Regions from separate parts of the Homo sapiens genome. Here region 1 is linked to region 2. Evidence: fine-mapped expression QTL. A gene starts in region 2. The other region holds a variant in brackets. All regions are shown on one strand. Distances are from middle to middle. Region 1 overlaps LINC01857 (long intergenic non-protein coding RNA 1857). Region 2 holds the start of FZD5 (frizzled class receptor 5).

Evidence for each region. PIP is the estimated chance that this variant, and not a neighbour inherited with it, causes the effect.
Region 1: its variant is the best candidate, but not a certain one, in a credible set for the expression of FZD5 in nasal epithelium (TOPMed, PIP 0.57).

What each region holds. Positions count from the first base shown.
Region 1 is chr2:207,677,707-207,680,649 of GRCh38, reverse strand. LINC01857 (long intergenic non-protein coding RNA 1857) reads right to left here. Exons shown (of 4, transcript NR_135566.1): 4 at 1,528-2,108. It also overlaps the pseudogene RNU6-664P. Among named protein-coding and RNA genes, the nearest start is that of LINC01857, 17 kb to the right of the region's middle. The variant G/A (reference allele first, on the strand shown) is at 1,545.
Region 2 is chr2:207,768,508-207,771,007 of GRCh38, reverse strand. It overlaps FZD5 (frizzled class receptor 5), which reads left to right and starts at 1,102. Exons shown (of 2, transcript NM_003468.4): 1 at 1,102-1,743; 2 at 2,014-2,500. The coding sequence starts at 2,269. RefSeq lists enhancers at 1-37, 202-251 and silencers at 802-1,481, 1,822-1,881, 2,292-2,351.

The sequences.
Region 1 (2,943 bases), 91 kb after region 2:
ATAACTTTTGGTGCTAGTTTCAGCAGCACATATACTAAAATTGGAATGATGCAGAGAAGATTAGCATGTCCCCTGCATAAGGATGACATGCAAATTCATGAAGTGTTCCATATTTTAAAAATACCTATCAGGTACTACACTTAGTACCTGGGTAATGAAATATTCGTACACCAAATTCTCGTGACATGAGTTTACCTATATAACAAAACCGCATAATGAGCCCCTGAACCTAAAACAAAAGTTAAAAAAGAGAAAAAAAAAGAATATAATCTTTGGTTAAAAAGTGACTCCTACCTTGATTTTAAGAAAATTTTTATCATTTAGTTTAATTCCATTCAGGGATCATAAATAAATAGTCTAATTTTTTTAAAAAAATCGAGATAGAATTTACATAGCAGCATTCACTCTTTTAAAGTATAAATTTTTGTTGTTGTTGTTTGTTGTTTGTTTGTTTGAGGCAGAATCTTGCTCTGTCACCCAGGCTGGAGTGCAGTGGCATGATCTTGGCTCACTGCAACCTCCACCTCCCCAGTTCAAGTGATTCTCCTGCCTCAGCCTCCCGAGTAGCTGGGATTACAGGTGCCTGCAACCATGCCCGGCTAATTTTTGTATTTTTAGTAGAGACAGTGTTTCACCATGTTGGCGAGGCTGGTCTTGAACTCCTGACCTCAAGTGATCTGCCCGCCTCGGCCTCCCAAAGTGCTGGGATTACAGGCGTGAGCCACCACGCTTGGCCTGGAACCTCCCTTTCCAGTTTGAATTCCCTCATGTCTCCTACTCACACCTCTGTATTTCCAGCATTACCTCCTCCTTCTCCTCCAGTCTAAATCCCACCCATTTTACAAGTCCCACTTCAAATCACGAGTTTTTGATAAAGCCTTCCCAGGCTATCCAGCCCTCAGAGACAGCTTCCCAAATCTCATTGCATGTAGTAGTTGCACCTTTTGTTTGGCAAATATTCTGCCTTTCTGGCATATATATATGGCACATTGTAGGTGCTGCATGTATATTAAGTGAATGAATGAATCTCTACACCAGATTATAAGCAAATTGAAAGTCGTGGCCTATGCTATGTTCTAATCCAGGGCTGTAGCGTGGTTGAGGAGAGATATATGGCAATGATGAAAATATTTGAGAAGCTTAGGAGCCCCAGGGAGGGAGGAGCATTTCCCAGAGTCCTCTCTGTTTCCTTAGTTTAGAGCAACACCGATTTACCTTCTGGCTATGATCAAAATGTTTTTGTCCCCCAGAATTCATATATTAAAAACCTAATCCTCAAGGCGATGGATGGTATTAGCAGGTGGGCCCATTGGGAAGTGATTAGGTCATGAGAGGGGAGCCCTCATGAATGGAATTAGTGCCCTCATGAAAGAGGCCCCAGAGGGCTGCCTCTCCCCTTCTACCACGTGAGAACACGGAGAGAAGGTATTGCTCACTAACCAGAACACAGGCTCTCCATAGACACCACATCTGCTGGCGTCTTGATCAAAGACTTCCCAGCCTCCAGAACCATGAAGAAACACATCGTTGTTGTTTGTTTGTTT[G/A]TTTATTTATTTTTTGAGACAGAGTTTCACTCTTGTTGGCCAGGCTAGAGTGCAATGGCACTATCTGGGCTCACCGCAACCTCCACCTTCTGGGTTCAAGCGATTCTCCTGCCTCAGCCTCCCCAGTAGCTGGGATTACAGGCATGCGCCTCCATGCCTGGCTAATTTCTGTATTTTTAGTAAAGACAGGTTTCACCATGTTGGCCAGGCTGGTCTCGAACTCCTGACCTCAAGGCCTGGTGCAGCGGCTCACACCTGTAACCCCAGCACTTTGGGAGGCCAGGCAGGCAGATCACCCAGTCAATGTTATAGCAGCCCAAACAGACTGAGACACTCCTGCAAAAGCATGCCAAGAGCAAAGGGCCTTTTCTTCTTTTAGGGTCAGGATCAGGGATGGCCTTTAGTAACCATTTTGCCTTGGACCTTTCCTGTCCAACTTCTCATGCTCTCTTGATTTGACACCCAGATGTATGGCCAGCAGACTCCTACAGGGCCACTAACAGCTCCTCTGCAAAGTGCTCTGATAGCACAAAGGTGTCAGTTCTTCCTCTCAGCCACCACTGCCTGTGGAGAGAGGGACAGAAGTAACAAGTGAGAAGACCCCTCATACCTTCTCTCACTCTACCTCATGATGATATTCTTCAAAATCTGTGGGCTCCTTTAGTTTTAGCATCACTAGTATATTATAATATGGTATGTTATAATACAGCACAATATAGTATAGTGTAGTGTAGCATAGTATGATATAGTATATTCACCAATCTATTTTTTGTTCTTTTTTTTTTTTGAGAAGGAGTCTCGCTCTGTTGCCAGGCTGGAGTGCAGTGGCATAATCCTGGCTTACTGCAGCCTCCGCCTCCTGGGTTCAAGTGATTCTCCTGCCTCAGCCTCCTGAATAGCTGAGATTACAGGCACATGCCACCACACCTGGCTAATTTTTGTATTTTTAGTAGAGACGGGGTTTCACCATATTGGCCAGGATGGTCTCGATCTCTAGACCTTGTGATCCACCCGCCTTGGCCTCCTAAAGTGCTGGGATTACAGGTGTGAGCCACCACGCCCGGCCTTTTTTTCTTCATTTTTTTTAGGTTTCTGGAGGGATCCAGCTTCTATTACTCTTTCGTCCCGTAAGCTGGATACCACTATTTTATGTGTAATTCTATTTTTATTTATTTATTTATTTATTTTGAGATGGCGTCTTGCTCTGTCGCTCAGGCTGGAGTGCAGTGATGCGATCTCAGCTCACTGCAACCTCCGCCTGCCAGGTTCAAGCGATTCTCCTGCCTCAGCCTCCCAAGTAGCTGGGACTACAGGCACCTGCCACCACACCCAGCTAATTTTTGTATTTTTAATAAAGACAGGGTTTCACCATGTTGACCGGGCTGGTCTGGAATTCCTG
Region 2 (2,500 bases):
GGAGGGGCGGCTACGATGGTGAGTGCCGCTGACCAACTACCTGGGTTCGAATCCCAGGGTTGCCATTTGGGCGGCTACTATGTGCCAGGTGATCGGAATACGGAGGTGAACTTGCTTGCCGAGGTCGCCCTTTCTTGGGGGAACTATGATTAGCTCGGTTGCCTTGGCCAAGTCTCAGTCTCGGTTTCTTCACCTGTAGGAAGTACCTGCCTCAGAATTGTTGTAAGGAGTGAGATCTTGTCTTAAGATGTAAACGGGCCGGGCGCGGTGGCTCACACCTGTAATCCCAGCATTTTGGGAGGCCGAGGCGGGCAGATCACGGTGTCAGGAGTTCGAGAACAGCCTTACATGGTGAAAGCCCGTCTCTACCAAAAATACAAAAATTAGCTGGGCGTGGTGGCGGGCGCCAGTAATCCCAGCTACGCAGGAGGCTGAGGCAGGATAATCGCTTGAACCCGGGAGACAGAGGTTGCAGTGAGCCGAGATCGCGCCACTGCACTCCAGCCTGGGAGACAGAACAACTCGTCTCAAAAAAAAAAAAAAAAAAAAAGGATGTAACCGATTAACACTTTGTTGGGCACACAGTAAAGGGCTCAGTAAGTATCCTCTCTTCTTTCACACAGTTCCAAGACAGCTCGGAAGGGAGACAGCCACGCCTAAGAGTGATTCCTTGAGCAGTTCTTTCAAAGAAGCACTGAACTCTGTAAGGACGCTTAGCTGCAGGCAGAAAGGGCAGGGGCCCTGGGAGCAAAGGTGCATAAGCCAGGAAGTTACAGGAGCGAGTCCTGCACCCAGGGCGCGGGCAGAGAACTCCGGAGGGACTTCTGGCAAGGGCTTCCCGCCCGGGTGCCCAGAGCGGCATGATTAGCATTCGCCCCGCCCCCATCTCCTCCAGGCCCGCGATTGGTCAGCGCTCCTTGGCTGCCCGCTCCTGGCGGGGCCAGAGGGCGCCGGGGGAAAGGCCGAGCCCGCGGGGCAGTGGGCGGGGACGCGCGGAGAGCTTGGCGAGGCGGCCCACCAACCGCGCCCGGGCCTGAGGGGGCGGAGCCGGGGCGGGGCTTCCCGGCGGGCATTAGAAGCAGGTGACCCGGGCGGGGCGGGAGAGGGCAGCCAGCCTGCGGCCGTGAGTCCGCTGTGGTCGCCGCCGCGCGCGGTTCCGTGCTCGCCAGAGGTGGGCGAAAGGGTGCGAGAGCGCGGGGGAGGAGCCGAGCAGGGCACGTCCCGAGAGCGTCGCCACCGCCCCCAGGAGTCCACTGGAGCGCGGAGCCCCCTGCAGGGGAGGAGGCGAGCGGCGGGCGGGACGCGGCGGCCGGCGCTCACCATGCAGTCCCGGCCTGGCCAGCGCCGGCTGCTCGCGGTGCTGTGAGGCGGCGGGGTCCCACGGCCCCCGCCTCCCGCCTTCCTCCCGCCCAGGTGCTGCCAGGCGCGCTCGCCCTCCGTCCGGCTCCCGGCCCCGGGGAGAACGCACGGCCTGCCCCTGCCCGGCTCCGTCTGGATCATGCGGGGGGCTCCCGAGGAGGAGAGGGCGAGTGACCGGCCTGCGCCGCCCCTGTTCTGGGGGCGCCCCCCACTCTGAGTCGCCCCCACCTGCTGCCATGTGCCGCTGCCACGGGTACCCAGCCTGTCGCTAAACTTTCCGGGCGCCAGCCCGGCTCTGAGTCGCGCTTCTCAGCGGAGTGACCCAGGGACGGAGGACCCAGGCTGGCTGGGGACTGTCTGCTCTTCTCGGCGGGATCCGTGGAGGTGAGAACCTTCCCTTTCTCCCTGTTCTTCTCCCGTTTCCTGTGCCCTTTTCCGGGAAGCTGAGGGTTCTGGTCTCCGGGCACTGCCTGAAGGGCCCAGCTTGGAAAGAGAGGGTGGGGGAGTCGGTAGTTTGGTTACAGGAGGCGGAGCGGGGAGGAAAGGAAAGGGGTTAACTTAAGAGATTTGGAGACAGCTCGCGGGGACCGAACTGTTGACGCCTCTCCAACAGGGAGTGGTTGCAATCTTTCTTCTCCCCCTTCTTTTTTAAAGAGTCCTTTCCCTGGAATCCGAGCCCTAACCGTCTCTCCCCAGCCCTATCCGGCGAGGAGCGGAGCGCTGCCAGCGGAGGCAGCGCCTTCCCGAAGCAGTTTATCTTTGGACGGTTTTCTTTAAAGGAAAAAGCAACCAACAGGTTGCCAGCCCCGGCGCCACACACGAGACGCCGGAGGGAGAAGCCCCGGCCCGGATTCCTCTGCCTGTGTGCGTCCCTCGCGGGCTGCTGGAGGCGAGGGGAGGGAGGGGGCGATGGCTCGGCCTGACCCATCCGCGCCGCCCTCGCTGTTGCTGCTGCTCCTAGCGCAGCTGGTGGGCCGGGCGGCCGCCGCGTCCAAGGCCCCGGTGTGCCAGGAAATCACGGTGCCCATGTGCCGCGGCATCGGCTACAACCTGACGCACATGCCCAACCAGTTCAACCACGACACGCAGGACGAGGCGGGCCTGGAGGTGCACCAGTTCTGGCCGCTGGTGGAGATCCAAT